4 separate regions of the Homo sapiens genome follow, and regions 2, 3 and 4 are each linked to region 1. Evidence: fine-mapped expression QTL. A gene starts in region 1. Each other region holds a variant in brackets. All regions are shown on one strand. Distances are between the middles of the regions. Region 1 holds the start of FAM124A (family with sequence similarity 124 member A). Region 2 has its middle 43 kb from the start of C13orf42. Region 3 overlaps FAM124A (family with sequence similarity 124 member A). Region 4 overlaps FAM124A (family with sequence similarity 124 member A).

The links. PIP is the estimated chance that this variant, and not a neighbour inherited with it, causes the effect.
Region 2: its variant is the best candidate, but not a certain one, in a credible set for the expression of FAM124A in monocytes (Quach 2016, PIP 0.77).
Region 3: its variant is the best candidate, but not a certain one, in a credible set for the expression of FAM124A in cerebellar hemisphere (GTEx, PIP 0.83).
Region 4: its variant is the best candidate, but not a certain one, in a credible set for the expression of FAM124A in tibial nerve (GTEx, PIP 0.68).

Annotation. Positions count from the first base shown.
Region 1 is chr13:51,218,206-51,226,311 of GRCh38, reverse strand. It overlaps FAM124A (family with sequence similarity 124 member A), which reads right to left and starts at 3,914. Exons shown (of 4, transcript NM_001242312.2): 1 at 3,743-3,914. The coding sequence starts at 3,810. RefSeq lists silencers at 3,966-4,025, 4,146-4,195 and an enhancer at 3,976-4,766.
Region 2 is chr13:51,150,109-51,158,214 of GRCh38, reverse strand. It overlaps a transcript of C13orf42 not described here. Among named protein-coding and RNA genes, the nearest start is that of C13orf42, 43 kb to the right of the region's middle. The variant C/A (reference allele first, on the strand shown) is at 3,919.
Region 3 is chr13:51,241,630-51,249,735 of GRCh38, reverse strand. All of the region lies in intron 2 of FAM124A (family with sequence similarity 124 member A), which reads right to left. Among named protein-coding and RNA genes, the nearest start is that of FAM124A, 23 kb to the right of the region's middle. RefSeq lists enhancers at 5,406-5,994, 5,995-6,584. The variant G/A (reference allele first, on the strand shown) is at 3,528.
Region 4 is chr13:51,272,941-51,281,046 of GRCh38, reverse strand. FAM124A (family with sequence similarity 124 member A) reads right to left here. Exons shown (of 4, transcript NM_001242312.2): 4 at 1-597. Among named protein-coding and RNA genes, the nearest start is that of FAM124A, 55 kb to the right of the region's middle. RefSeq lists enhancers at 1-290, 291-947. The variant G/A (reference allele first, on the strand shown) is at 3,397.

The DNA of each region.
Region 1 (8,106 bases):
GCTGACACTATAGGGCCAGAAGCAGTGGCTCACAACTATAATCCTAGTGCTTTGGGAGGCCAAGGTGGAAGGACTGCTTGAGGCCAGGAGTTTAAGACAGTTTCTGAGCAACATAGCAGGACCTTGTGTTTATAAAAATAAAAAAATTAGCTGGGCATGGTGTCGGTGGTGCGGGCCTGTAATCCCAGCTACTTAGGAGGCTGAGGTGGGAGGATTACTTGAGCCTTGGAATTTGAGGTTGCAGTGAGCCATGATTCCACCAATGCACTCCAGCCTGGGTGACAGAGAGACCTGTCTGTTAAAAAAAAAAAAAAAAAAAAAAAAAAAAAAAAAAAGAAAGCAAGCAAGCAACATTACAGATTATCATCTTTTCTCCTCCTTCTCCTTCCCCCTTCTATAGAATCCTTTCTATCACACTGATTGCTCAATTAGCACCTATATTTAAGAAATCTTTCTTCACTCCACTCTCCCCTTTAGCTACTGCCTCTTTTTGCCTCTCCTTTTTCCAGACAAAGGAATCCACCTGTCTCCTTTTCTTCACCTTCTACTGCCTTCTAGAGCCACTCTAATCTGGCTCCTGCCTCCACCACCCCGCTGTGAAATACCACTCTTCCTTCACTTCATCATCTCCATTTAAAAAAGACATTTAGCGTTCCTCATCTTCATTAGTTTCTCAGTAGCATAGTTGATCTCTCCTTCCTTTCTCAAAAACTCAAACCTCCCTTGGCTTCAATGATTCATATTCTTCTTTCTTTGACTCCAAGTCTACTCTTTCTCAGGCTCCTTTATCAGCTCATTCTCATTGACTGGGCGTTTAAATATAGTTTCTCAAGGCTGGTCTTAAAAAGCACCTGCTGCACAGAGTTGTTGAAGGATTCGAGGAGTCCATGAAATACATAAAGGCTTAGAACAGTAGGTGGCACATACTAAATGCTAAGAAAGTGCTTGCTATTACCTTCAGTTGATTTAGTCTCTCCCAGAGCTTCCATTGCCATTTTTAGGTAAATAGTACCCAAATGCAATGTCATCATGAAGACCTCCCTTCTGAGTTCCAGACAGATATACCCAACTGCTGATTCATCATCTTTACTTGGATGTCTTGCAACACCTCAGACACAGTGTGTTGAAAATGAAATGTCTCATATCTTGCCCAAACTTGGTTTGGAATAGATCACCAGCTACTTTGAGAATCTGATAAAAAAAAAAAGTTCTCTTCTCATACAAATTCACAAAGCACATCATTTTGCATACAACTTGAAGGAATTCATGGACCCCAAATTAAGGATCACTGCCTTAGCAGATGTGTCACTTGAGCTGAGTCCTGAAAGAAGAGTAGAGTTTCACCTGGCAGACAGGCAAGTCAGGTGGGAAGGGCAGAGCTGGCAAAGAGGGCAGCTTGACAAAGGCGAGGAAACAGAAAAATACAAGGCGCAAAGAAGGACCTGCTGAGAAACAAGGCCAGGGAGGGAAGAAGGGACTCCATAACAGGAGTCAGGGCATATAGGCCACGTTAAATTCCTTGCATTTGTAGATAACAGAGCCATAAAAGTTTGAAAGGGAGAGACATGATCAGATTTGCATTTTAAAAATACTAACGATAGCAAACACTTGTTGTCTTCTATGTGCTTTCTACATAATCTCTGTGAAAGCTGGATAGGGTAAGGGGTGGGGGCAAGCTCTGGAAAAGCAGGGAAACGATGAACAGCTTTTTGATAACTGAAATTCAAGGGCTCTGTGAATATATGGCAAACACAAAACTAATTAGCATACATTGAAATGCATGCTATTTTACCTTTAGCTTAAGGATACTAGTGATACAGTAAGAATTCCTTTTTTTTTGGAGATGGAGTTTTGCTCTTGTTGCCCATGCTGGAGTGCAATGGCGTGATCTCAGCTCATGGCAACCTCCGCCTCCCGGGTTCAAGCGATTCTCCTGCCTCAGCCTCCCGAGTAGCTGGGATTACAGGCATGCGCCACCACACCTGGCTAATTCTGTATATTTTTTAGTAGGGATGAGGTTTCTCCATGTTGGCCAGGCTGGTCTCAAACTCCCGACCTCAGGTGATCCGCCCACCTCGGCCACCCAAAGTGCTGGGATTATAGGCGCGAGCTACCGCACCTGGCCAAGAATTCTTTAAACAATTCTGTCCTGTTACAACTACACATTTTAGTGACAGAGGCTGAGAACAGAAGCTCTGGTGTCAGCAGGAGTGGGGAGCCCCTCCCAGGAGGCCTGGCCGCTGTCATGCTGATGTCCAGATCCTGGGGCGATGTCACCCCCTGGGTCCAGGACTTCCTCTCCCTTCTCTAAGACAGAGCCCTTGAAAAAAATATCAGTTTTAGGTGAGTTCTGCAAATTGAAAATGAATAGACTAGTGAATGCTTTATTTAACGCAGTTACAAATAAGCTGGTTAATTTTGCTTTGTTTCTTCTATTCATGGTCCAGCTAACTAATGGCAGAAAAAAAAAGCCAATAATCTTGTTAAAGTTGATAAATGCCACTTACACAAAGAGTGGGAAGAAGAAAGGAAGTTTGGCATTTAGCATCAGGTTACTCCACCAGATTATAATTGGGTGCTGTAGAGAGCTATGAATAAGTTTGGATAACAGAGAAAGCCCATTGCTGGGTGAATGCCCTAGGGAGTAAAGTCCCGCATTTGGGCTAGGAGTGGTGGGGCAGGAGGGGCCCTGTGGGGAGCTTTGCCGGGGTTGGGTTAGAACTCTGGGTCGATCGTGGGCCTGGATTCTCTACCTGCCCTCACAGGGTTGCCAAATCCTGAGATTAGTCTAAAACCTCTCCGACCTTCCAGGAATGAGGCTTTCTGTAGTCTAGGCAGCTCCCGCCCTCCCCCAGGATTACTCCAGATAGGAAAAAACACCCTTTCCTCCTGGGTCAGTACCCGCGGCCTGGATGTGGTGCTGACTCTGCACAGGAAAGTCCTTTAGAGACAGAGGCTGCCTGGAAGCCTTTATAACGACATTCATCTCCTAAAAGGCATTTTGTCTTTTCTTCCGCTCAGGAAAACAGTGTTTGGAGACTAACTAATTAGTCTCCAAAGGTTTGAGCCCATTGTTTGAGTCCGCTGAAGCGAAGAGAATATTAAAAAAAAAAAAAGGCAGGGCTAGATCCTAATCCCAACACCATCTCCATCCCGCCGGTACAACAGGCCAAAGGGTCCAGCTGGGACAGGTGCACTTAGAGGTGAGGAAGTTCGGCGGGACTGGAGGAGTCGGGGAGGGGGACTCGGCAGCACAGATTAAAGTCCCACGATGAAGCCATATAACGAGAAATGCCATCCTCCTAGCCGACTTCGGAAAGACTTTTAGGTGCGGGTGTCCCACCCTGCTTTTCTTCCTCTCCCGATCTCCAGGGCCGGACTCCAGGGGGCTCCGGAGCTACAGGAGGAAAGTCCCCGAGGAAGGAGGAAACAAGTGCAAGAGCATCTCCTGTCTCTAGCGATGCAGACAAGGGGTCTTTGCATCCGCCTGGCGCTCTGCATCGCCTCACAGGATGGGTGGGCTTGCACTGAACCTTGAGTCCTTCCACTTTCCTCCCCCCGGGTGGTGCCCGCCCTGCCCAGGGCAGCGCGGCCCGCCCAGGAGAGAGCGGGGGATCCGGCAGGAGGAGAAGCCCCGCGCCCCGGTCCCGTCGCACGGATCAGGAGGGTCCCCGTCCGGGGAGGAGCCGCCGCGCAACTCGGAGAGCGCCCCCCGCCCGCGGCCCGGCCCGGCGCGGCTCACCCTCCGGTCTCGGCGCCCGAGTCCACGCAGTCGTCCTCCTCGCCGCCGCCGCCCGCCTTTGGGTCCATGGTGCACGTCCCGGCCGCGCTCGGCTTGCGGGCGCCGTCGTGACCCGGGGCGCCCTCCCTCCCGGCCGCCCAGTCCGAGCCGGCCGGGCTCCCTCCGAGCGTCTGGCGGCCCGGGAGCCGGCAAACAACTCAAGCGCCAGCCGCGAACCCCGCGCCGCGCCCTCTCCCGACCGCGCCCGGCTGGGCACCCGCGCCTGCGCCCGCGCCCGCCCCGCCCCTCGCCGTCCGGCGGGACCCGCGTGTGCGCGCGGCGGTGCGCGGGGAGTGCGCGTGCGAGCGCGTGTGCGAGCGCGTGGGGGGCGTGTGAGCGTGAGTGGCCGAGGTGTGTGGTCTCACACCCGTGCGTCTGTGCATGCGGTGTGATGTGGGTGCGGTGTGCACTCCTGGTTGCACGCGACTGTGGCTGTGCTGAGCGCGTGTGCCCGTCTGTGGTGCGTGACCGCGTGTGTGTTGTGGGGGCGGGGTAAGTGTGCACACGAGAGCCGCCTCTCTCCCCCAGGCCCACAGTCCGGGAATCCCGAGCCCCAGGGCTTGCCACGAGGTTCCCCACCTCCTGATCTGGGAGGAGCACTGAGAAAACCAACCTCAGCGCATCGTGAAAGCTGGGAAGGATTTGTTTCCCTTTTGGGACCAATTCGAACACCTGGGTGTTTTCTTATAGTTTCTGAAGAATTGCTGACGCCAAATTCATTATCACCTTTCTCAGTACACGTCTGAGCGGCATCCCACCCCCTCAACTTGCCAGTTTACAATAGGTGTCATGCATTCTTTTGCTACTTAAAAAAAAAAAAGCCTTTAAAAATAATTTAAAGAGCATTGAATGAACCTGCAATTCACGGGTTGTTGCAGCAAGGGGATAACCTTAGGGTGAGTTAATGATCGCTATTGGAGGGGCTCACCTCCTATTAGGAGGGTGAAGAGGGAGGCAAGTTGGCAGGGCGGGCGGAAGGAGACTTCGAACAACTTGAATTTAGTTCTGACAGCCCTATCCAAACCATTGGGAGGAATTGTCCTTACTGAGCCTAAAATTTCTTGCACCCCAAACAGCAATGGACATATTGGTGGGCATTAGCTGAAAGAAAGGAGCGTGCCAGTTCTTCAAGGGAGATTCCCCTGCCCATTTTTTATCTTGCAGCCAGGAGGGAACCTGCCTTTATTTACTCTGTGTGGGAACAATTCAAACTGTGCCTCATTTGATCCTCAGGGAAGTGCTGTGAAACAGGCTTACTTTTCTATTTTACCGTCAAGGAAACTAAACCCTACCGAGTTCGAGTGCCTGGTCCCAGGACACCCTATCAGTGAGCAGGGAAGCCAGGTAGTCCACTTAAGGTAGCTGGAGCCTGTGCCACTTACCTAGAAGGCTGATGAGTGGGCCAGTTGTATCCTCAGGAAGATGGTACTAAGGAAAAGGCCAGGGAAGAAAGGGTGAAATCAGCATGACTTTTAGAAGATGGGCTTTGGAAAATGAGATGCTATTTAAATGATTTCTGCCTTTCTCAAATATCCAGAGAAAGGGCATGCCAGACCAAAACCTCAAGCCACATCTCAAAATGATGCATGGATTCAGGTTCCCCTCGCCCACAGGGGACACAGTGTTATCATTCATCATTGGCATAGCAGTCTAATGGCAACTCAGTGATGCATTTATTATATGGAAGAGAAGCTTGAACGGTATCACTGTATTCTAGTGATGCATGGCTTTCTGCTTCAGTTCCCAGGTTTTAAAAGCCTCACTTCATTTTTTGCTTGTTTGTTTGAGACAGGGTCTTACTCTGTTGCCCAGGCTAGAGTACAGTGGCACAATCACAGCTCACTACAGCCTCCACCTCCCTGATTCAAGTGATCCTCCCAGCCTCCTGAGTAGCTGGGACTACAGGCGTGCCACCATGCCCAGCTGAGTTTTAATTTTTTTGTAGAGAAAAATATGTTGCCTAGGCTGGTCTCGAACTCCTGGCCTCAAGTGATCCTCCTGCCTCGGCCTCTCAAAGTGCTGGGACTATAGGCATGAGGCATTGCACCTGGCCCATTTTTTGGGAGGGCGGGGTATAAGAGTTGCTGGCAGGTAACCAGCACAAGAACCTTCAAGTGATCACTGCAGGGTATCTAGCCCCTAAACTTACATGGTTCCCACACTCCATAGTCCAGCTGTTTAATGTCAGTCTCTTTAATCATGGGGGTACGATGCTCTCCTCCACCCCTTTAAGATGGGGACAGAAAAGTGTCACTGGTCTGCTTAGGGTGTCTTGACTGCTGCCCTAAAGATATTCCTATCAGAGCCTGAGAACAGTGTTGGGGGAATACTGAGGTATGGCAGGAAGTGTAACAGGCTAGGAAACATGAAACCTGACTTCTGGATCGGAATCCATCATGTACTAGTTCTTTAAACTCTCGATAGAGAAAAAGGATAGACCATCAACTGTTTCCAAAGTTCTTACTACATGTCAGTCTTTGTGGTAAGGATTTTACATACATGATTTATTTAAATCTCACAAAATTCTTGTGAGGCTTCCTTTGTCCTTAAAATGGGGTTGTTGATATAAATCTCACAGGAGATTCAAAGCCCCTTAGAAACTACGAAGCATATGAATAAAAGATATTGCTGATTTTTTAATCACTTTTTCTCAGAAAGGTCTGAACATCAATCTTTTGTTGTATTTCACCTATAAAGCATGTTTCAGTCTCTGTTTATATTATTGCATGTGTTGGTGTGTTAGAAAACAAGGCAGTTCATTCATTTATTTATTGAACACTCAGTGTGTACTAGGCAGGGGCTGGTGCTGGGGATATGTTGAGGAATAGGCCAGAGCTATTTTCTGGCCTAATGGAGCTTTTTGGGTCAAGAGAAGGCAAGGCCAATGGGCATGGCTGGCCTTCCCACCAGGCACCTGAGAGGTATGTAGTGCCATCAGCCATTAGAATAGGACTGGAATGCCAAAGCCCTGTCTTGGAGGAAAAAACTTAAGATAATCGGATGGTAAATAGAGTCCATCAACTTTGCTGATGAAAGAGATGGATTAGTAATTAAGAAGGCCAAGAGTAATTGGGAGGGGGCCAAAAAAAGAGGAGCTAAGTAGCTTTAAGATAAGAACTTTACAGCAAGAGACTGAAAACAGATAAAAATAAATATCTCCAGAACATAGAATTTGCCCAGATTTGGATTTCAGTTTAGAGGGAAGCTAGGCCACTTTCATTGCATCTGTACCATTTGCTATTAGGCGAGCTTGATTTAGTCCCTTAAGTAAAATATTTGTTAGGGTTATCCAGTAGCAAATAGAACCAGAAAATATATTGGTCTGGAAACTTTTGCTCATTCATTTTAATTAATTAATTACTTTTTGAAAACACATTTCCCAGAAACAAAAATTACAGGTTAAAGAATGACATTAAAATTAAAAAAAAAGAAATCTCTTTCTTCCAAGACTCCAGAAGAGTCTGTCTAATGTGAAAAATAAATATTATGATCATGAGAAGAAAATTTATAAACTATTGACAAATCTACTTAGACAAAGAAAGCCACTAGCCCTACATGCAAACATAAGGGGACCAGATGGCAAAGGGATAAATGAAATGAAAGATAAACTGTTGTGTTGGGAAATAATCTCATTAAAATATAAATGACTCCACTTTGATAAGGAAGAGCACAGATAGTGGTCCTGCCTTGGAGGCTTCCCAAGAATTCTCAGCCTGCAGTTTATACCCGGACGAGATCTGGAGTCCAAGTCAGACATCAGACCACCCACCCACTGTGACCCCCAACAACTGGTGGGTGGGTGGGCGTAAAATGAGATGGGAATGTGAAAGGCTGGCTTCCGGAAATGTGCTGTGGAAATTTAAGAATCAAAGGGAACCTTAGACTCAGGGCACTGCCCTCCAGTCCCCCGTGAATAGACACGCCTCCTGGGAACTGTGGCTAAGTCACCCATTTATGGTTCTACGAATAACCTAGGCTTGGAAAGCTTTGGCCTTCCGTCCACTTTCATCCTGACACTTTCCTTCAGGCACCTGGTCCTCCCCAGCTCCAACGGCCTGATAGTCAGCTTGGCCTGCCATTACAAAGTACCACAGACAGCATGGCTTCAACAATAGAAGTTGATTTCGTCACAGTTCTGGAGGCTGGAGGTAGAAGATCATGGTGTCAGCAGGATAGGTTTCTTTGGAGGCCTCTCCTTGGCTTGCAGACGGCTGCCTTCTTGCTGTATCTTTCTTCTATCTGTGTGCATCCTTGGGTCTCTTTGTGTGTCCATATTTCCTTTTCTTGTAAATTAAACAGTCAGATTAGATGAAGACCAACTCTAA
Region 2 (8,106 bases), 68 kb after region 1:
AATCTGACAAAGATGGTTCAAATCCTGGCATCTCTACTTATTGTGGGATGTTTGGCAATTTACTTAACTGGTTTCAGTTTCAATTTTCCCATCTGCAAAATGGGAATAATATCTAGTCATTGAAGGAATGAATACAAGAATGTACACAAAGTCCACTGTGTAAGGCCTGGGAATAATGTGGCAAAGCCTGGTTTTTTGTTGTTGTTTGTTTGTTTTTTAAAAACGTTATTTTTGGTACTGTCACTAAGGGTGGTGACTTGAGCTTGTCCTAAACTCACTTTAAGGCTGCACGCCTTCCTCTTTCCTCTTTCCTTGCTCTTGCCACTTACAAATCCTCTGAGAGATTTTAAATCTTTTGTGAGAGCCAGAACACAGGTGTCAATATTTAATTGTCAAGTTCTGAATTTTAGTGAATATTTATTACTTCACAATACACGAGGCTTCTGTTGACCCTGCTTTATTTATCTAACATTAAAAAAACACCAGTTGGTTGCCTCTTCATGCTGGCATGGTCTGCTCCTGTACAAGCGTGTGTAGGGGTGCAGTAAGGAACAAAGGGGGTTTCAACAAAGGCTCGCTGGCCACAAATAGCTCACTCACCTGCATGGCAGAAGAAGGCAAGAAGTGCCTACAAAAACACTGGCAGTACAAATCCAGCCATGTCTACAAAGTTCACGAGCAGGCAAAATGAACCTAAGGCAATAGAAGTCAGTCCATTGGCCACCTCTTTGGTGTGGGAATTTTATTTCATTTTATTTTATTTTATTTTATTTTATCTTTTGAGATGGAGTCTCGCTCTGTCGCCCAGGCTGGAGTGCAGTGGCACAATCTCAGCTCACTGCAACCTCCACCTCCTGGGTTCAGGTGATTCTTCTGCCTCAGCTGCCAGAGTAGCTGGGACTACACGTGCACACCACTGCGCTCAGCTAATTTTTGTATTTTTAGTAGGGATGGGGTTTCACCATGTTGACCAGGCTGGTCTCGAACTCCTGACCTCAAACGATCCGTCCGCCTCGGCCTCCCAAAGTGCTGGGATTACAGGCGGCAGCCACCGCTCCTGGCCAGTGTGGGAATTGATGGGGAAAGGGCAGAGGGAGCCTCTGGGGTGCTGGAAGTGTTCTAGGCCTGGATCTGGACATCTGCACATATAACACTGGAGCTGTGCATTTACAATTTGTGCCCTTTATGTATGCTCTACTTCAATTAAGGAGAACTGAAATTTTAAATAACTATAGAAAAAGCACCACTAGTGCTGTTGCTCAGCAGGATGTGAAGATATGTAATACGAGAAGCTGTACTCAGCCACCTATGGCACTGGGTAACAATTGCGTGGATTATTCCCTTGCAACAGAGTGAACTGGCCTGAATGAGAGCTGGCCTAGGCAGACAATTACAGTGTGGAAAATGGGGACACACCCCATCACCAGATGCCCATGAGAGCTGAACAATATTCAGATTCCTTATCTCTCCTTAACAATAGTAACTACCCTGATCAAGTACCTATTCAGTTCTAAGTGCTTTGTAGATACCGATTTTTTCCACTAGTCTTTACAATAATCTTATATGGTAGGTGTCTTTTGTTCCATTTTATCACTGAATCAATAGTTTAAAGAGACCTTATAACAAGTAAGGGGTGAAGCAAGATTTTAACCTTGGTCTGTGTGGCCTTTTGATCAGTACCATAGGCTCTGAAGACAGATTTCCTGGGTTTGAGTTCCAGCTCCTCATTTCCTTTCTGTGTAAATGTGGGTAAGTTCCTTGACCTCTCTGTGCCTTAATTTTCTCATCTTCAGGAAAGGGCGTAGTGGCAGCTATGTATCACAGAGTTATTTGAGTTAATCTGTGTAAAACACTTAGAACACAGTATGCACTTGGCACATAGTAAGAGCTATACATGTGTTACCGATTACTCTGTTGAATGACACAGGCTTTCAAATGGAAGGGCCAAATCCCATTATTTTCTGGGATATAAAGTAGAAATATAGGCCTAGCCAAACTGTTTGCTCCCTACCTCCCTCCTATGGGTTAACATAGCCCCGAATCCTAGGCACGTGGCAGGCCCATGGGACTGCTTTCCTTCTTCCCCAAGAGAACCCCTGGGTTACAGGCCGGGGGTGGGGTCAAGGTCCCCTGTCACTCCAGATCTCTCCTGCCACCCGTATCCTCAAGGTGGCCTAAGAGAAAATGTTGTTCCAGGCTTGTTGGCAGTTCCTACCTACACTGATGTCAGGCACAGGGGAGTCTGGAAGCTGTTGAAATGAGGACTTTTCCAGCTTGTGCCATCAGGTTTTCTGCCTGGATCTCCAACCCCATTCCCATCTGGATTCTGGTAATTTTCCCCTCCCTGACCACGTGGTGACAGTTGTCCTTGTGTGAACAAGACCCCGCCTCTGAGGTCACCTGTGATGCCTGACCAGAGTCTCTTCCCCAGAAGTCAAGACTTGGAAGTAAGAAATGGTAACATCAGTTGAGATTGTCTTTGAATGGAAGAGATATAAATAGAAGAATGCGGTAGCCGTTTTCCATCTTGTCCACTTGGAAATATACTGAGAAAGGAAGTGTGCAGCGAGTGTGAGAGGTAAAGCAGAGCCTCAGATAAGAGTGGGGACCAGGAGCAGAGATTGAGAGAGGTGGGTCACTCTGAGGCCTGAGCCACTGTGGGATCACCCAGCATCCTCATCTGCAAATTACCCCTCCTGCTTAAACTGGCTGTAGTGGGTTTCCAGCGCTCATACTTGAAGAGTTCACACAAATACACCTGGACTGAGTAATTCAAGGAACAAAATTCATTGCATGAAGCAATTTTCTTGGAAGCCTTTCTTGAATCCCCTAAATTGGGTTAGGAGCTCCTCTCAAACACAGCTGCTTCCCTTTCCCCATGGACTTACTTGTATCTTAGCCCTAGTTATACTCTTCTTAAAAATATGTCTGTATTAAAAAAGTTATCTTTAAAACCCACAAGGAGTTTCCAAAATGTAGTTTTTTTGAGTTGCAATCTTTAAATGTTTAGGTCTTATTCATGTAGCTCCTGCATTATTTATTTATTTTAATAACAACATAATAGGCTTTAATATTTAGCTTATATTTATTCATTTTACATGAACTCCTTTTTAAATTGAGCATCATCCAGGAGATAGTTAAGAATTGAGGGTTTGAGGTATTAGATATATATTTCTAAACATACGTTAAACTGAATATGTACCTATTAAAAAGAAAAGATAAAACGTTCTACCTAAGATCATCTCACGTACCACTTTGGAAACTCCTGTCCTACCTTACCGGCCCCTTAAAAGCAGGACAGTGACTCATGCACAGCCTGCTTTCTACCCTTGGGCTCAGGGCCCAACATTTCCCCTTTATAGAACTTTTCACAAGAAACCGTCGAATGTGCAATTAGTTTACTTGTCTGACTTGCATGGAAGACCCTTCCATGCATTGTTTACTGCTTTATCCTCAGTGTCTTCAACGAGGTCTGGCACGTAGCTGAGGTTTAATACATATGCATTGGAAGAAATAATGCATGCATTGATAAATGAAAACCAGTTCCAGAATGTTCTACAGCCATGAATGTCAATACATGCTGCTTCTGACTGGTGGGGACACTTGAGGGTGAGCACTCTTGCTCAGTCTCTTACTTTTCTCGCTTGCTCCACTCTGGTGGTGACACTATCAGGTCAAACATGGAAAGTCTTTAGTCCTTAGTTCCATTGGCTGAAGCAGAACAGTCCTCCGACACTGTGATTCATACGCACCCTAACTGGGCATGTGCAGAGCCAGCTGTATAATTGTATAATTTAAACAGCCCAGTTCAAAATGAAAATGTGTGTTCAAAAAGCAGGAGTCCCTATGACTCAGCAATTCCACTTCCAAACATACCCAACAGAATCGAAAGCAGGGACTCAAAGAGATAGTTGCATA[C/A]CGTGTTCATGGCAGCATTACTTACAATAGCCAAAAGGTGGAACTTAAATGTCCATCTACAGATGAATGGATAAACAAAATGTGACATAGACACACAATGGAATATTATTCAGCTTAAAAAAGGAAGGAAATTCTGACACATGCTACTCACGAAGAACCCCAAGGACATTATGCTGAGTGAAATAAGCCAGTCACAAAAACACAAAAGCTGTATGATTCACTTGTGTGACGTACCGGAGTTGTCAAATTCATAGAGATAGGAAGTAGAATGGTGGTTGTCAGGGGCTGGGGGTAGGGGAAAATGGGGAGTAATGGGTATCACATTTTAGTTTTGCAAGAAGAAAACAGTTTTGAAGATGGGTTGGGTCAGGCATGGTGGCTCAATCCTGTAATCTCAGCACTCTGGGAGGCCGAGGCGGTAGATTGCTTGAGCCCAGGAGTCTGAGACCCGCCTGGACAACATGGCGAAATCCTTTCTCTACTAAACATACAAAACTTAGCTAGGAATGCACCTGTAGTCCCAGCTATTTGGGAGGCTGAGGTGGGAGAATCACTTGAGCTCAGGAGACGGAGGTTGCAGTGAGCTGAGAGATTGCATCACTGCATTCCAGCCTGGGCGACAAAGCGAGATCCTGTCTCCAAAAAAAAAAAAAAAAAAAAAAAAAAGAAAAAAAACAGAAAGCAAGAAAATGGGTTGATAACAACGTGAATGTATTTAACACAACTGAGCAGTACACTTAAAATGGTTAAGAGAGTAATTTTATGTTACATAATTTTTACTACAATTTTTTTTAAAGTAGGAGAAAAGCTTTCTCTCTCACAGTCTCTATCTCTGTCTCTCTCTCTCTCTCTGTCATGTTTTTTTATTTGGTATTGAGTGTCACACTCCCTTGGGCACAAGCATAGGCATTGGGTGAGTGCAGACACTTATAGGTGCCCAGGACCTCATCTTGATGCCCTGGGCATGCAGGGGGTGCATGCCTGGCTCCCACACTCTGAGGAGGGCAGGAAAAGGGGGCAGTGGTTGCTCAGCAGGACCCTATGGAGGGAGCAGGAAAAAGGGGCAGTGGTCACTTGGCAGGACAGGGGAGGGGGTGTTGAAGAACCCTTGCTAGGGAGGCGGCAGGTGCAATGGCAGGAGCTGAGGCTCCAAGTCTTTGGCACATAACTTGACTTACAAAACATTAATTCAAAGATACAATCATTAAGAGTTTTAAGATTGCCACTGCAGAGCACTAAACCTCAATCCCTTCTGTGTGTGGGGCTGGGCAAGTGCACTGTATACAGTCCCCAAGAAGCCAGCCCTGGTTGTGCTGCAGAAACATAACAAAACATCAACCCCGCAGCAGGTGTCCCCAGGGTGCCCGCGAACATGACGCAGCTCTGCATGTATGGGATCCACAGCCAGCAGACATGTGGCTCGAGCATAGCAAAGAGGCTGGAGGGATTGAGTCACTAAGCCAGTGAGCCTTAAAGGGTTATCTGTGGATTTCCCAGGACTAGGGCTTAGGTTTGCCAGAGCCACCCTGACCTCTTTTTACTGATGGTAGAAGTAAATTGAGGCTCAGTGATTTGAAGATTTAGCTGTTAGAGTAAATTATTTTGGGATTGAGGTCATCAAGCAGGAGAAAAACTTTGCACTATCAGAATGCTAGAGCTGAAGTTGTGTTTTCTAAAAAAGAAATGGGTTAGGCTGAGGCAGGAGGATCATTTGAGACCAGAAGTTTGACACCAGCCTGGGCAACAGAGCAAGAACCCCATCTCTAAAAAATATTTAAACATTAGCCAGGTATGGTGGCATGCACCTGTAGTTCCAGCTATTCAGAGAAACTGAGCTGAGAGGATCACTAGAGCCCAGGAGGTCAGGGCTGCAGTGAGCCAGGTTCGTGCCACTGCACTTCAGCCCTGGCAACAGAGTGAGACCCCATCTCTTAAAAAATAAATAAATGGAAGAACTGGGTGATGTTTGTAACCAAGTGTTTATAAAATAAAGCCTGCTAAATGTTTCCACAGGAGACGTACAGCCTGATGGTGTATGTGATGTCTATGTAGATGCTGAGAAACGACACAGAGCTGGAGTGCACCGTTCTAAGCATGGTCACATAGCAGTAGGAATGTTCTGAGGGACCTCCATGCTATCAGGGTTACATATGTAAACAATTTCTGGAACCTGTTTCTTTCTTTCCACACTGTGGTGAGTATGAGAATATTGTTATTTGGGGCAGTGATTCTTAAACTGTCATGCACCTATGAATCCCCTGGGATCTTGTTAGAATGAAGATTCTCTCCTGGTAGGGCTGGGCTGGGCCAGAGATTCTGCATTTCTAACAAGCTCCCACGTGACTCCTGGACCATACTTTGAGGATCAAGGGTCTAGACCAGCCTGGACAATAAAAAACTGCTTCCTTCTTCAGCATTCATGTCTAAATAAAAGGCCCTGGGACCATGTAAGTCCAGAATAGTACAGACCCCTTCTATCAGGCTTCTAGGTTAAGCTGAAATGTCTCCTCTGCTCCAGGAAGCCTTCCTTGGCTCCCCCAGGCAAAGGGGAGCACCATCAGCTCAGTGCTCCCTCAGGGCTTGGTACATGCATGTTTAGTGCATAGCATGTTGCTTTACCTGCATGTGCAGAATTTTCTCTCCCTACTGGACTATGTGTCTCTGGAATGCCGGGCATATTTGCATTGGCAGGGTCAGTGCCTGGTCATAGAAGGTGCTTATATTGATTTCCTATTACTGCTGGAACAAATCATCACCAACTTAGTGGCTTAAAGCAATATGAAGTTCTCTAGGTTAGATGTCCAACACAGGTCTCACTGGGCTAAAAATCAAGGTGTCCGCAGGGTTCAGTTCCTTCTAGAGGCTCTAGGGAAGAATCTGAGTTTTTGTTTGTTTGTTTGTTTGTTTTTTCTTTTTTTTTTCCTTTTCCAGCTTTTGGGGCTACCTGCATTTCTTGGCTTCTGGCCCCTTCCTCTGTCTTGAAAGTCAGCAATGGTGTGCTGAGTCTCTCTCACATTTCATTTTTCTGCCCTCTCCTGCCACCCTCTTCCATTTTTAAGAAAGATAATCTGGAAAATCCCCCCATCTTAACCTGATTAGCAGCCTTAATTCCCTTTACCATGTGGTGTAACATATTCGCATATGTAACATTACCATGTGGTGTGACATATTCACAGGTTGCAGGGATTCATGTGTGGACGTCTTTAGGGGCTGTTATTCTGTCTACTACAATGTTTGACTAGTGTCTATAGAGTGAATTTGTGCCTGTGATTGGCCTTATGCACACAGCTCAGGCCAGGGGGGTTCTGAAGAGTTGAAGATTCTACAGCTCTGTACTTGCTGTGGCCAATTTTTTTGGTAGCATTTCTGGTATTTTTCATTTAGCTGGGATTATTTCTGACTTCTGGCATCTCAGAAGACATTGGTAGCCTTTTGATTCTAGTCATCCATACACAGGCAAGATCTGCATAGAACCAAGGAATTCAGTTTACCTCAGCAAGTGCTAATGCAGCTCTAGTTTTAGTTTTCATTCTGGGATGGAACAACATAGCCCCAGTTGTTGAGGGTCTCTCTGCGAGTATCTTTCTGGTGGCACAAGCAGTGACCCCTAGGCAAATTGATGGGCTCATCTGGATTAGTCCACTGCATTTTTTAGGATGGCCAAAGCTGCTTTCTGGAAAGAAAGAGGTTCTGTTATACAGCCAGTCTTCTTGAAAAATGTTTGTAGAACTGCTGAAAGTATATATAATTTACGCAGAATTTATGCCAAATTTGGGCTGAATATATATGTTTTGGTTGTGACCAGGACGGAGGAGTGTGTTAACAGAAGCAACTTTCTTAAAGCCTCCCTTCCCGTGTGATTGAAGTTCTAATATTACTTCCTAAGGGACTACATTGAACCTGTTCCAAGTATATAATAAGAATAAAGCCCAGTATTGATTCCCCCAGTCGCCCCAGTAGGATACGCTGGTGGCTGTAAATTTGAAAATTGTGACATACAATGACCAAGTGCTCAAAGATGTTTGTTTTCACTGTGACCAAGTGACCAAGGGCTGCCTGTTAAAAAATATCCCCAATTCTGGAGAAATGTGGGGGTCCCACAAACGACACCACAGTAAATGAAAATGTCAGCAGTAAAAGCTGATCATGTGTTTTTGTCTACATAATTTTGTCCATAATTCTTGTGCA
Region 3 (8,106 bases), 23 kb before region 1:
AATAGTAACTTGGGGTGGGGGCTAGATTCTAAAGTCACTGTGAAGCAAAGGTTATCTATAGACACGATTAACACTGAAAGTCTCCTAAATTTCCAATAAAGTACTAACTTGTAACAAGACAAGATGGCCAGATAGATGTTTCTTTAGTTGAACACCACATAAAATAACCATTTTGCTGCAGGGCCATGTATAAGAGAATAGTCTGTTTCTTTAAACACTGAACCCTTACTCATCAAACCCTGCCCTTCACTCTACAAGAGGCTTTTGGGAACCTGAGAGGCTTCTGGAAGTTAAGGATGACTAAGGTAAGAGCGGAGTCAAGTTTCAGCTTTCCACATTCATGGAGTAGAATGGCAAGTGGAATCCTTTAAATTGTCTTCCCTCTTTTTCCTTCCTGCTGGCTGAGCATGTATTCTCAAATTTGTATGAGTTAAATATGAGCATAGAGCAATTCCAACTTACTACATATGACAAAAGAAGGAGGGCTCTGCAGAAGGCTTCCTGGAGGAGGCACCAAATGAACTGGGTCTTGAAGGGTAAAGGCAGAACACATCCTCTTGCTCATGATGCCCTCAAATGCTGAGGAGATTAGGAAGTGTTTACGAAGGTATAGAACTGTGCAAAAAACAAGCACATTTGGAAGGGGGCCGTGGGGAATTCTGGGACATGGCAACAGATGCAGCTGGAAAAATGGATTAGAACCAAGCTGTATGGGGCCTCAGCTCAATTCAGTAGTTGATAAGGGGCAAAGGAAGGTTTTATGAAGGGGTATCAGGATCAAGTTGGGGGAAAGTTGGCTATAGGCAAAATAAGGAGTTAGAAGACTAGTGAAGAGTCCAGACAGGAGATGACAAGGACTTGGCAGAGTAGGAGATTATGTTAGTGGCTTCAGTTCCTTATCCTATTATGTATCCTTACTTTCTGCCATGTGACTGTGTAGCTCCTCCCACTAAATGGGTGGCGTATTTCCCCACCCTTTGATTTAGGATGAGACTATATGCCTAGCTTTGGGCAGGAGAAAGAGACAGCAGTGGCATGTGTTTTGGCTTGCCTCCCTGTGCTCCCAACATTTCCATAAGAACATACTTGGGGGAGCCCACCGGTCCCAGTAAGGGGATGAGACACATGGAACAGACCCACTCTAGCTGAGCCTGCCCTAGATCAGCCAAACTTCACACCCAAAGACGCAGGGCAAGAGCCACTCAGGTGAGCATGGTCTAGATCAGCTGATCCAAGACAAATGGGAAATAATAATGATGGTTGTTTCAAGCCTGAAACTGAGACTGGAGGTGGCTGTTACCCAGCAGTACTTACAGATCCAGGACAGTCAGTCAAGTGGGTAAATAGAAGAGGCATGGATTCACAGGCTATAAAGATGCAAATGGCAGGCCAGGAAGCCCACAGGCCTGGTGGGTGGGGTGTAGGAAAAGTTGGAGAGGAGTATATACCCTGATGTTTCCAGCTTGAACAAGTGATCTGATGTGATGTTTAACTGAAATAGGAAATAGAGGAAGAAGGGCAGATTTGTGGGAAAAGACAGAAAGTTCCACCTTGACCACTTGGCTTGAGATGCCCAAATGACTTCCAGGAGAGATGTCCTTTGGCAACTGGATCTTTGTGTTGCTTAGGTGAAGGGCTGAATTTAAGGATGGGCCAGTTACTTTCAGATCATATTCTCATTTGTATGCAGTTATCTGATAAGCGTGTGCCCCCATATAGACCTGAATCATGAAAATTCATCATGATGGCTAGGAACACAATCAGAATTCAGAGATAATTCTGGCCCTTTTCTTTGCTTGCCCTTTCTGCCTGCCTGGCTTCTTTCGGTTTGGTTGAACATTCATGACACGATCGGCAGAAGTACAGTTGACGCAAAAGTAGTAAAGCTGCGATGAAATTTTCTGCCAGTGAGTAACTCCAGTAAAAGTAGGAGAAAATACCACATCATCTAAATGGATTTCACTTTTCTCTGGTGCCTTGAACTCCCAACAGTGGAGACATGCGACTTTGCTAAGCATCAGTGAATGCTCCATGTAAATGGAAAAGGACAGAAAGGCTTTGAACGAGGGGTCAAGAATTTTACCTGAAAAAAATGACAGATGATTTTAATGAGGGGGGAAAAACACCATGCGAAGTAAAGGAAAGTCTGGGAAAAGAAGCTGCCTGGGCCACCAGGAAGTCCCTTCAAGGTCCTAATCCCACCCCCAGGTGTGCATGTGGCCAGGTACACAGGGTGACATGTTAGCTAACATGGGTGCTTTCTCCATGTTCTACATGTATGAACTCATTTAATCCTTACAACCACCATAGAAAGGGGAGGTGCTATGATTGTCCCCATTTTAGAAACCAGGAAATTGAGGCACAGGAGGTGAAGTAGCCTGCCAAGGTCACACAGAGTATGAGCACTAGCTCCAGTATCCGAGTTCCGTGTGCACCATCAGCCCAGGCTCTGCAGAGAAGTGTGCTCGCCTCTCCACTGTATCCCTTTCACAGCAGAGTGGCCAGCTGCCATTCTCCATCCATGTGTGGCCACGGCAGCTCCCGCCTGGCCCCTCTGCACGGCTCTCCCACCTCATTCTGACTGGCTTCATTCCCAGCCACCAGCCAACAGCTTCATTTCTTGGACACCCACTTACATTTCTTTCCTCTGGCCCCAGGTCTTGGAGGAAGAATAAGCTAGAAACTGCCCTCCCTGTTGGCACATGCCCAGGTCTTCACATCTCAGCAGTGCCCTCGAGGGCAACTCAAACAGGCCAGCACCACAGGTGGGTGCACAAGTGAAAGGAATGCATAACAGTCACCCAAGAAAGCCTATAGCATGGCGTGAGAGGCTTGGGTGTGAAGAGGCCCGGGAGAAGGTGGCTTCTGAGACTCTCCAGTGGAGCTGTCAGGGCGCTCAGCCCTGTGCCATCTCTATCAGTTACACAAAGGTTTCCCTGAGAGCAGTAACAAAGACCATGCTGAAGTCTGCATGGATGAGTGAATGTTTACAGCTCTGCAGAAGGGCGAAATGCCCGGCCTCAGAGCAGGGGGGTGAGCTGAAAGGCATTCCACCAAGTACCAGCTCGCCTGGCAGTTTGGGAGGCAGCCAAGAGCAGGCGAGCCAGGATGACGAAGACCCGACCCCCAGAGCCCCCTCTGCACTGCCTGAACCAGGGACATGTAAGTGGCTAAGACCCTGCCCCAGAAGAGCTAAGGAGAATGAGCAGTGGCATTAGCATGCTCTGGCCATCACTAGCACGTACCCGCTGCACATGACCTGAAAACACAAGCAAAGAACACAGAACGCAGCTTCAAGCTGTCATCAGGTGTTAGAGTTACACCCCCCCCCACCCCACGAGAAACATGCCTCTGTGGAGCTGGATAGGAAACCAAGCATTTGAGGGGAAGGACAGAAAATGTGAATAATTAATTGCCACGAAAAGTCTCTATGCCTCCCTGGAGAAACACAGACGACATGACTGTGGGATGTGCTCTGCCTTTATCATATCTATTACATGTCTTCTCAAAGGACCTAGCGAGCACCT[G/A]TTGAATTATGGTAAAACACAGACCAGAACCAAACAGAGCAGTGGCACAGACTGCCCCAAGGCTGGTGGGAGGATGGGAGCTGCTAGCACACCATTAACAAGGCTTTCAAATTAGTTTGTGTTTTCCTAAGGAGAAGGGAGATTCTTTTTCATTTGATTATAGACAATTAGGCTTTCCTTTGATAACACAAAATGAAAACAGTGTTAAAGAAAGCAGTGTACAAGCTCAGGCCTTCTATGATGCAGAAAGTGTACTATTAGCCTGGGCATTTGTTATATATATATTTTTTCCAACATTTTACCTCTCCTGTGTATCCTGTTTCTGGCCATTTAAATTTAACAGAAAATTAATTTAGACAATAGCAACCATTTATTATGCTCTTATTATTTGCCAGACATTGTCCTACAAGCTTTATGTATACTATCTCATTTAATCTTTCATTTAAAGCAACACTATGATAGATGAACTACTAACTGACCTGCTCAAGACCATTTGCCTGGAGAACAGCAAGGGCTGTCTGAACCCCGGATCTGTGCTCCTCACCACTATGTCCTCTCACTACTCAAGGGCACAATCCTCGTGATACAGGAGATGGAAAGAAATTATTTAGGCACATAGTGAGTATAAAAGAGCCCTTAGCAGAATTTTGCTTTTAACAAAAAAGCAGCCCCCAAATCATTTCTTTTCTAACAAAGAGCAGTCTGAAAATTCGAGCTGTAGATGTAGATAAGCAAGCTGGAAGCTTGCACAGATGAATGCCGGAAGCTGCGCCAATAGAAAAGGGCTACCTGAGGGCCAGGTATGTTCAACCTGGAGGCTCCATCTTCCCTTTTCTTTGTCACCGTGTGTACAGTAAAGGAACAGGCAACATGGCATCCGCCAGGTGGAGAATCCATCTGCATAATAAAAGATTAAAGTGGGGGGCGGCCAGATTTTCACATGCTGTGCAAATGGCACACCTAGTCCTAACCAGTTTTTTGCATCTTATGCAAATGGCACACCTGGTCCGACCAATCTTTTGTGCCCTATGTAAATCAGACACCACCTCCTCAAGCTCATCTACACAACCCTAAGTATTTTGTGGCAGACCAGACACCTGCTTGGGAGCCCTCTCTCTGCAGGAGATAGCCTTTCTCTTTCTTTCGCTTATTAAAGCTCTGCTCTTAATCTCACTCCTTGTGTGTCCACATCCTTGATTTCCTTGGCAGAAGACAACAAACCTCGGGTATTATCCCAGATGAACGATGCCACTTCACTTGGAATCATCGCGTTGGTTTTTCTGCCCCAAATTGGCTGGGGCTCTGAAATCATGGCTTAGCTCCTTCACCCACCTTAGGTGGGAGAGCCTGCTGTGAATGGGCTGGCTGTTTCGCCTGGGTGGGCATCCTCAGCTGGAGTCTTCGGAAGAAGAGGGCAGTCTGCCTGTTGACAGACTTCCGGGTGCTGGACCTACCTCAATGCTGCTTGCGCCAGGGCCCCTCACAACCACTCTCTGCAGTCTTGGGCTTTAGATCAGCCATGCCTGCACTGCTTGCCCGGTGCCTGCCAGACTAGCCCTCCTCCCAGAACTGGCCAACTGGTGTGTCCCCAGAGCACCCCCTCCCCAGCAGTGGGCATGTCTAGTTGAAGAGATCTCTCATTCCAAAAGAACTTCCTGGACAAGTCTCAGGATATGACAAGCTCAGGTACCCCTTTCTAGAATTTTTGGGCAACGATTAATATGATTGTCACTTTAGACACAATTTGTCACTGACAATTTGCAATTTAGTTTCATCATTTATTTAATCAAAGAATGTTTACTGAACACCCACCATGTGCCAGGCACTAGAGGATACAGTGGTGAATAAAACAGTCTCTGCCTTCAGAGAGCTTATAATCTAGTGAGGGAGACAGACAATAAACAAATATATAAGATGTAAGCCGGGTAGCTAAGTCCTACAGACAGACACTTCACTGAACACACACATGCTCAACGTGGTTTCCAAGGCAGTGGCTGTAACAATTTACCATTGACGGAATAAACTGCTGTGCGCCATTCCAGTGCCAAAATTACTGCCAACACTGCAGTGCCCAGTAATCCCCGACGAGGCCAACAGACTGTGAAGGAGGGCACCTCCAGCTGTTGCAGGTTGTTTGGTTTAGGAATCTGGCCCTGGAGCCTGGCTTGAGAGCTGCATAAGGTTGAATAAACACTTATTTGCATTTCTAAAGCCCCCATCAACGGCACTGAGTGGCTTGGGGGCTGGGATACTGGTCTGCCAACCAGACCCACATGATCCAGTGGCAGAAAACTCAGGTGAGACGGTGCGTCACACACACAACAAAGACATGTCCAGGGCACCGGCTGACACTGTGAATAAAGACCAGATCTGGGCTGGGCGTGGTGGCTGAAGCCTGTAATCCCAGCATTTTCGGAGATCGAGGCAGGTGGATCACCTGAGGTTAGGAGTTCAAGACCAGCCTGGGCAACATGGTGAAACCCCGTCTCTACTAAAAATACAAAAAAATTAGCCGGGTGTGGTGGCGGGCGCCTGTAGTCCCAGATACTTGGGAGGCTGAGTCAGGAGAATCACTTGAACCCTGGAGGTAGTGGTTGCAGTAAGCTGAGATCACACCATTGCACCCCAGCCTGGGCAATAAGGGCAAAACTCTGTCTCAAAACAAACAAACAAACAAAAAAAACCAACAACCAGGTCTGAAAGCAGGAGGGAAAAAGGCTCTGGGTGACGCTGAACACAAAACTTGCAGAGGGCTAGCCTCCCCACATTGAGGCATTCCCCAGAACGCCAGAAACAAATGCCTTCAGAAAGGGGCCTCCAAATTCCTTCCTGGGAGACGCTATTCATCCGGAATGTAATGAATAACCTGCCTTCATCTCTTTTTTTCATAGTTTTAGAAGCCAGTTCTTTGAAACTTTGAACTAATGAAAAATGTGTAAGCAACTCCCTTACTCCACCAATATTTAAGACAAAATCTCAGACTTTGTTCTTGGTAATTTTGTAATTTTGACAAGGCCTGTTGGCCTGCAATTTTGGGCTGTGAAAGTGGCGAGACTGGTTGCAGTGCTGGAAATAATGACCTGTGGTGGCAGTGAAGTGACATATAGGATTTTTAACATGGAGATCCAAACTGCATTTATAATATAGATCATAAGGTTCTTCCTCAGCCTGATTTCACAGAAGTGTCCTGTAATTGAAGAACTGAACCTAGGCTGAAATGATTAAGCTAAAACTTATATTTTCATTTGGCAGAGGAGTACAATAAAGGATCTTTCTGGTCTATAGGCCCTCTCACGCTTTTATAAGAAGGGTGGCTTTGCTATAACAGTTATTCGACCGCCCTCTCATTTTTTTTATGATTTGCTGGAGGAACAATGTCAGCGATGTGGATGTCTAATTCATATTCCTGAGCTCATTCTAAAACCAGGACACTATTAAGAAAAAAATATATAGAAAGTAAGGCAGATACTTTAGATACCCTGCCGGTTTTTTTTTCCACTTGGAAATGGGACATCCATCTTACTTTAAATGTATTTCTAAGCTTCATTCAGGTCCATCATTCTGAAACATACTCTCCTGATAGGAAAAGGAGGGGGAGCAAAAGCCGGACACCAACCAAAGGAATGACAGACACTTTAAATCCTGATACAGCTTGACAGAGATTCTGGGAGAAGACCAGAAGGTTGATATGTAATTAGTTTGAGGAGGTATAACTGCAGCTAGAAACACTTAAACATATCTAGCATACGTGTGTAAGTCCCTGGGACTGCAAGGACTTTGAAAGTTTATGAGAAGTAATGCAGGCCTGACACCCAGCAATGTACCATGCTTAATGATGTACTAAGACTCCTCTTGCATAAAAATTTGACGGTTCAAAATGCCTGAAGAGGCTATAGCATTCTACACAGAGTCCTTTCTTCTACTCAGTAATTTTAATTCTCTCTAAACCACATTATGTGCTTGTCATTTGCATTTGCAGCAAAGTCATCCTGAGAAAGTCAGGATCTCAACAAATACTGGAGATCCAGAGATGACAGAGCAGGGCTTGGAAACAAGAGGAACAGAATTAATATTAATCTTGTATTAGGAAATGAAAGAAATCTACCAAAAAGAACAAAACAAAAAAGACAAAAGAGGAAGATGTTAGCCTAAGCCTATCCCAAGGATTTGTTCATCAGGAAACTCCAGGCCTCTGTCTTACACTAGAGCTCGTGGGAGGAATCCTTACAATTATATTAGTCAAGATTTATCTTAAAAAGGGACTTATTCTGGCAGGATATTGAGAAATCAGATGAATAATGATTAGCCGTTGCAACTCTTCTAAGAAAAGCCACTGCATATGTGCTTATAAAACACGTCCTGAACGCAGTAGATGCAGCAGTGACGAAATCCAGCACTGGCTTTGCTCATGATCAAACGAGCAATGTAGGAAGTGGATGGAGCCTGGGGACTCATTTTTTTTTTTTTGGCCTAAAATTCAGTGGAATATTCAAATATTTTGAAAATTTTAATATAACACTGACAAGTCTCCGGTACTTGTTTCTAAGTCTCCTTAGAAAATGTGTACTTTGGGCCCATT
Region 4 (8,106 bases), 55 kb before region 1:
CCAGGAGGCCTCTGTGGTCACCCTGCTGACAGTGGGCAGTGGTCCCTCCCTGGAATCCTTGTGAGCTGCCCAGTGGCTGCTGCATCTTTCGGAGGGGAGGGGTGTCTCCACTGTGCTGCAGAACCTACTGGGTGCAGAATATGCAGAGACCACAGACAGGTCCGATGAGGACAGCCGCAGGCCTGTGTCCACGTCTGTCTCCTGGGCCCCCTCTAGGTCATCGATGGAGAGGAGGTGGCCATGCCTCCACTCTGATGCCCTGTGCCCTGGGGCACCTGTGTTTGAAAACCACTGTGGTTCAGCTGAGGAGGCCAGGGAGGGGCCTCCCGTGGGCAAACAAAACAAGGACTTGCTTCTCTGGAAAGACCAGGGAGGGTTGGGGGTGCTGTTGGCTCGTCCGGCAAATTCCTGCTGGTGCCCAGGAGGCAGGCCTGTCCGGATGGGCCCCGGGTGAGGACTGTTGAGCGGGGACTGCTGGCTGCTGCCAGGTGTATGGCTTGGTACAGCAGTGCTCGGCAAAGGAGTGGAATGACGTTTCTTCTCGGAGGCATGATGTACTCTGCCAGGTTTAGGAAACTTCTTATGCACCCTTTGTGCCTGTGGGGGGAGAGGCAGATCACATTAGTGCAGGATGGGAATTGTTAAATGCATCAGGAAACACAGTTACCAATCATTGGAAACTCCTGGCAATGTCATGGCAATAAAGCATTACCAGCATTACCAGTTCTGCAATCTCTAGAGCAAAGACAGAGGTAGCAGAGCTTTGAGGAGCACCAGAAAGAGTTTTCAGTCTGAGGAGCCATCTCCGAGGCTAGGAGGAGATTCAGCTCCTTATCACAATACAGAATACTTTTTAAAGCACACATGCCCATTGCGCTCAACAAACTGGCAAAAAGAACATGGGCCTGGCTGAGCAGGATAACGGAGATAAGAATTATCACAAAATGCAAAAAGAATGCTTGCAGGGTTTCTTTCCTTCCAACCAAAGAATCACAGTGTGCTCACCTGATAGACACTGTTTGTAAATGTTACTGATGAGAGGACAGAAGTGATCAGGATGGGCTATGCAGAGACAATTTCAGACCAGATCCACATGGGGTGTGATTCTAGTATATGCATGATAGCCAGGACACAGTCTTAGGGTGGGGTGGTCCATGGTTCCAGACAGTAAATCCTCCATGAGTGAGGGGCTATCGGGGTTAGCATTTATCTACTTGTTGCTAGTAACTACTGATTCCTCTATATACGTTACCTTTCAGGAACTGTGTACAGGAAAGGGAGCTGCCGCCTGCTGACTGATCCTGCGGATCCTGCAGGGGTTGGATGAGCAGCTTTGCCCTGTCATATCCCAGCCTATCCTCCTGGTCCAGCAGCCCTCCCTGGCCCTCACTGCAGCTCACCAGTAACCCGTTTCTGTTGTGCAGAACTGGAGACCTCTCTTCCAATGCGCATTTGCACCAGGGTCTGCTTCTCTCAGATTCTCTCTCTGGTCTGTGTCCAAGCATACAGGCCAGAACCCAAGGCCAACCTTACTATGCATCCAAGGTTTCAATTAAATAATGGGTTTGGGGGCAGTCGGTCTGGCTTGACTTAGTATATATTAATAGTACCTGATTTACAAATCCCTGCAATAAGAAAAGGGTTCTGACTGGGGTTTACTACAAGGGCTCTCGGCATCCAGCAGGAATGGAGAGTCACCCCTTTGGGATGGGGTAAGGAGCAGCCCCAAAAGGCTCAGATGTGCCTAAGAGGTGTCACAGCTGGGTGGCTGCTGGGGAAACAAACCAATTTTCTTAATCATTTGAATTGGCTGAATAAAAGAGAAAATAAGTCAAGAGAAAATAAAATGAGGCTATTAGAGAAAGAAGTCCTTGGGTACAGAGGTTGTTTCCGGGGGAGGGGGACAATGTTTATTAATTCAAATGTCTATCTTATTTTTTCCAAAGGCCAATTCCTTTGGGTGCCCTAATGTCATTTTCTTTCTTGATAAGTATGCATCACCTTGTAACTTCTGTCTTCAAAGTCTTATTTGAGAACATGCACTTGGTGAAAAATTTTGCAGTCCGAATCTGCCTGAAAAAGGAAGCCTTTGTGGTTGCTTTATGAGGAGCAGAAGGTCAAGGTTCCCATGCAAGGAATGCCAGGGGACGTCTAAATGTTCCCAGTGTCAGGGAATAGGGCACTGTTCAATTTGGCTTAAAATCAAGCACAACTGATGGAGGATGAACACTGTGTAGTTTTGCAGAGATTTTCACGACTGTGCTTGTTTAACAGAAATCTACCTGTATTCTCTTATTTTTACCACATGACGAAGGTAGGAATCCAGACAAACCCTACATTCTGCTGCTTTGAAGAGAGATGGTACCCGGTCTTTTTCACTGGAGGGTGCCCACGTGCACAGTGGAGCTGCCTGCTGGGTGGGCGGAATTTGAGGCTGATATGGCATTGTGAATAATGGCAGGAAATCCTGGGTGGCAGCAGGAGGCAGGTGCTTGAGGAGCCTCCACATCGCTCCTGAGGCCTGGAGCTGATGTGACTGCAGGGCTTGCATATGGGCGGATCTGGTGGTATTCTCTGGCTCTGTCCAGTGGCAGAGGGGTCAGTTTCTAAAAGTGGGGTCTTGTTGGATTTAAAGACAACCCGCACCTGTGAAGGTTGGAGCTCCTTTATGTGCTGTTCCCCTGGTGGTGGTTCCATCTCTGGCCTCCCTTGTGTGCTTGTCTGCTGACCAGAAACACTAGAGGCTGGGAGGGAGTTACTTTAGATGTTTCCAGAGACTCCTCCTCAGTGGACCTTTTTAGAGTGAAACAGGAACCTGAATCCTCCTCGCATGGAAGCCTCCCCCTGGCTTTCAGCTCTTGGAGGCTGCCCTCCTGAGCTGCTCCAAGTGACAGCAGCGATGTACTCGTTCCTTTCTTTCTCTTTGAAGCAGTGCAGGCTAGCTGCCTCCCTGGAATCCAGAAGCTCCCTTCTTTCTATTTAAGGAACTTTATCTAAGGAACAGAATAGCATCACATAAATTAATGTGCTTAAGGCAACCAGCCCGGGAAATTTGGCTATGTCCCTAAAGTCACCAAAAAATTGGAATTCAGTAACTGATCCAAAAGTTTTCCCTGCACCTTTGAGTACAGTTTGCAACTGGGGAAGCGAAGGGGTCTGCGGCGGACCACTGAGGCAAAGCATCTTTTTCAAGGATCTGGGTGTCAAGAGGCTCATACCCTGGCACATGGATAGAATCCTTTCTCTCTTTTTTTGAGACAGAGTCTCGCTCTGTCGCCAGGATGGAGTGCAGTGGCGCGATCTCAGCCCACTGCATCCTCTGCCTGCTGGGTTCAAGTGATTCTTCTGCCTCAGCCTCCTGAGTAGCTGGGACCACAGGCACGTGCCACCACACCC[G/A]GCTAATTTTTTGTATTTTTAGTAGAGACAAGGTTTCACCATGTTAGCCAGGATGGTCTCAATCTTCTGACCTCGTGGTCCACCCGCCTCGGCCTCCCAAAGTGCTGGGATTACAGGCGTGAGCCACCATGCCCGGCCAATTCTTTCTCTTTAATTTTTTACTTTTTATAGATTTAGGGAGTACAAGTGCAGATTTCTTATGTGCAGATACTGCATAGTGATGAGGTCTGGGCTTTTAGTGTACCCATCACCCAAATAGTGAACAGCGCACCCAATAGGTAATTTTCAGCCCTCACCCCTGGTCACCCTCCCACCCTCCCACCCTGTGGAGGCTCCAGTGTCTCTTATTCCACTCTGCATGTCCATGTGTACCCATTGTTTAGGTCTCACTTCTAAATGAGAACATGTGGTATTTGACTTTCTGTTTCTGAGTTATTTCATTTAAGATAATGACCTCCAATTCTAACCATGTGGCTGTAAAAGATGTGATTTCATTCCTTTTTATAGTTAAGGAGTATTCCATGCTATATATACCGCATTTTTTTTTCCAGTCATCCACTTGATGGACACTTAGGTTGATTCCATATCTTTGCTACTGTGGACAGTGCTGTGATAAACATACGAGTGCAGCTATCTTTTTGGTAAGAATCTTTTCTTCTTAAATCGCTAGTAAAGGTGATTCTGCCCCTCCCCCAGGAGCCCTGGCAGAGTCTCATGATTTGTTCATGGTCAGGGACTTTACCCTCAGCCTCACACCTCCTCTTTCCCAGTAAGATCATTTCCTCTTGTGTTTTCCTTGGCAGAAACATGAGCAGTGTGACAATGTCTGCTGTGTAATGAGCCCGTGATGGCCATTTTAACACAGGGACTAATACAAATTTGGGGCTGTCTCAAGAAAATTGGGCAACGGGTTCACATTGAGAAATCAGAGTCTTGCTCTAAAGAAAAATACCATGTTTTGCTTTTCCTTTCCCTTTCCTTTGGGTGGTTTTCACACACTCACTAAGGATGCTGGCCATGGGCAAAGCCTGTGTTGTCTTTCTGGAATGGTCAGTACAGGAAGAGGATTTGGATGGAAAGGGCAAAGTTCACCCTAAGAATGGACAAAGCCCGTACACGTTTTGTAAAATCAGTGATGTTTTTGGTAGAAAGTTTGAAAGTTGTCAAAGAGATGCTGAGCTAGACAGGATGGCGGTTGAGCAAATGCTTGCTGGATTGTCATCTGTCTACCTTCTCTTCCTGTCGCTATTATGGAAGTGTAAGGCTTTCTGGAAAATCATCAGTTATAGCAACATACCAATTCCATTCTCTGCATAGAATGGCAGGTAGTATAATTCAGGGTAAAAGTACTTATTCCCCCAAATTGGTAAAATGGCAGCAAAGTGATAATTAGCACCCCCTGTGGCTTCCTGCCAAGAGTTACTTAGCCTCCCTAGCTTCACCCCGCATACCTCTTGAGTGATCTCTCTGAAAGTCAAACCTGAACAAGCTCCTTGGCAAAACTCACTCCTTGGCAAGCTCTACAAGACCCGGCCTACCCCTTGAGCCTTGTGTCTTTCTAGAATCCTAACTCATGTGCGCCAGCAGTTTACAACTACCATGCTCCCAAACACCTCATGCTCGTTTGTATCTCCATGACTTTACATGGTGCTCCCAGTGTCTGTGCACTTAGAGAATACCTGCCATCTTCGGAGACAAAATTCAAGGTGCTGCTGTGAAGCCTCATTTGGCCACTTCCCCTCATTTGGTGAACAACATGCACTCATTTCTCTTGGGTATATTCCCAGGAGTGGAAATGCTGGGCCACAGCATGAGCATGTTTGCGGCTTTAGTAGATACTGTCAGTTTCCAAATTGGTTGCGTCGATACATAATTCTACCAGGAATTTATAAGTATTCCAGTTGCTCCACGTCCTCACCAGCATTTGGCATTGTAATTCTTTTTAATTTTAGCCATTCTGGTGGGTAATGGCATTTCATCATGTTGTTAATTTGCATTTCCCTGATGAGTGATGATATTGAGCATCTTATGAGATGTTTATGGGCTATTTAGGCATTGCTTTTAGAGACATGCCTGCTTTTTATGCATACTCTGGATTTAACACCTTTCTTAGATATATGCATTGCAAAAAATATCATCAGCCAGTTTGTGGCTTACCTTTTTGTTCTCTTATTGGTATCTTTTGATGAACAGAAGTTCTTTTTAAAGTCATTTATCTTTTTTTCTTTAAGGCTGGTACTTACTGTACTCTGGTTTATTTCTTTATTTCTTTAGAGACAGGGCCTCCTTCTGTTACCCAGGCTGGCGTGCAGTGGCACGATTATAGCTTATTGCAGCCTCAAACTCCTGGGCTCATGTGATCCTCCTGCTGCAGCTGCCTGAGTAGCTAGAGCTAAAGGCATGTGATACTATGCTCAGCCAATTTTTTTTTTTTTTTTTTTGTATATACAGGGTCTGGCTATGTTTCCCAGACTGGTCTTGAATTCCTGGCCTCAGGTGATCCTCCTGCCTTGGCCTCCCAAAGCACTGGGATTTCAGGCATGAGCCATCATGCCTGGCCCCTTGCTCTATTTTAAAAACTTTTTGCTACTGCATCCAGTAGCCATTGTGAACCAGGATTCCTGAGTACTGTGGATGACCACAGGGAGGACAGAAAATAAGCCACTCTTGATTAAGCCACGATTCTTTAGGTCCCTATCATTCTCAGTTGTACTTGAGCTTACAAATTACTCCAACAAATAGGAGATATTGATATATTTAGAGGAACTGGGTTAATTGTTAAATCTTCACTTAGTTCTGTGAGGCTTTTAGAAATTGGGTTGCTTGACATCTGATCCTGCAATTATGTGTTTAAACAAATGTTCAGTTTTGTACATAGCAAGCACTCAATATATTCCTGAATGAATAAATACAAAAATACATGTGAGATACAAATACATATCTTCTAAAATAACTTAAGGTAATTTTAAGGTACTTATATGTGTGTAAGTTATGATATATGCCTATATATCATAAATCATAAATACCAATAAATATTATTTGATTTTAACAGAAAAAAGTTATGAGGACTCTGATATTTTTGGGAAAAGCAGTAGCAACATCTAATGATAAAGAGCAACTTTTCAAATAAAAAAATATCTGAGTAGTTGCCTCAGGGACCAGCTTTGTTTAATACAGGTTGAGTATTCCTAATCCCAAATCTGAAATCCAAAATGCTTCAAAATCTGAAACCTTTTGAGTGCTGACATGATGCTCAAAGGAATGCTCACTGAAGCATTTTGGATTGTGGATTTCCAATGCTCAAGTGATAAGTATAATGCAAATATTCCAAAATCCAAAAAAATCTGAAATCTTAATCACTTCTGATCCCAAGCATTTCAGAGAAGGGATAGTCAACCTGTATCAGTAGTGACTCTTGTGAAAATGTGGCAAGGATCCTAGGAGATACTATTAATAAACAGAAAAGGGCTGGGCACCTAGAAGTTCTAGGAAACAACATGGATATTGATCTGATGTATATTAAAAAGCTATTCACTTAAGGAGGAACAACAGAGAAAATCAAAGTGACAGCTGAGGACCCGGAGCTAGCGCCAACAAATCTAATGATAGAATCTGTAAAACTTGAAAGAATATCATGCCCAGGTGCAAGCTTTCTCTTTGTATAAGTTCTGCATCTTTCCCCGAATATTTATTTTTGGTGTAATTTGTGAATTACCCTGCCCATTGGCTGTAAAACACAGGAGTAGACAGAACTGATTTTTATATTAACAAAGGATCATCAGAGTTTCATTAAGTATCATTGATTTTAAGAAATTTCCAAAGAGAAATATCCCGTGACATAGTTCAATGACCAGGAGGAGCTGACAGAAACAATTAACAATAACTTAGGTTAAAAATCTCATTCTTACTTTATTTGAACAACAAGAGATAGAGTATTTTGTTTTTGAATTATCCAGATAATTTCTTCAATTCTCCAATGTAATTTTCTATTGCACTGAGGGTATAATGCTAGCTTGTGGGACTGAACTTTAGCTAATTACTGCATTCTAGCCTGAAGGATTCAAGTTAAAAAAAAATTAAGCCAACGCAATGTTACACGCCTGTAGTCCCAGCTACTCAGGAGGCTGAGGTGGAAGGATCGCTTAAGCTCAGGAGTTTGAGACCGGCCTGGGCAACATAGCAAGCCCCTGTCTCATTAAAAGAAAAAGTACATGCATGCATATCTATCTGCGAGCCTGACTGGAATCTTGGAGATTCAGTTTAATCTCAGTTTTCTCTAGCTCAGCACAATTGACATTTTCGGCTAGATAGCTCCTTGTTGGGAGAGCTGTCCTGTGAGGATGTTTAACCGCATCCCTGACCTCTATCCACTAGATACCAATAGCACCCTGGCTACCTCCCCGTTGTGACAACCAAAAATGCCTCAGGACATTGCCAAATGTCCCCTGGTGGAGGAGAGATGCCAAGTGCCCCCAGGTGAGAGTTGCTGCTAAACTTTTGTATTATGAAAATATAATGCCCTTGCATAAACCTGGGGGTCTAAGTTCTGCGGGAATGCCTCCCTATCATTTTTTGAATTAAATTTTTATTTTTATAAACTGATATGTAAACAGAGTTTTAAAAACAAAGTACACATTAGTTCTACAAAGCTTATAATGGGGGAAAAAAAGAGGTTTTACCCTTATCCAAGTGTCATTTCTTAGAGCAGTG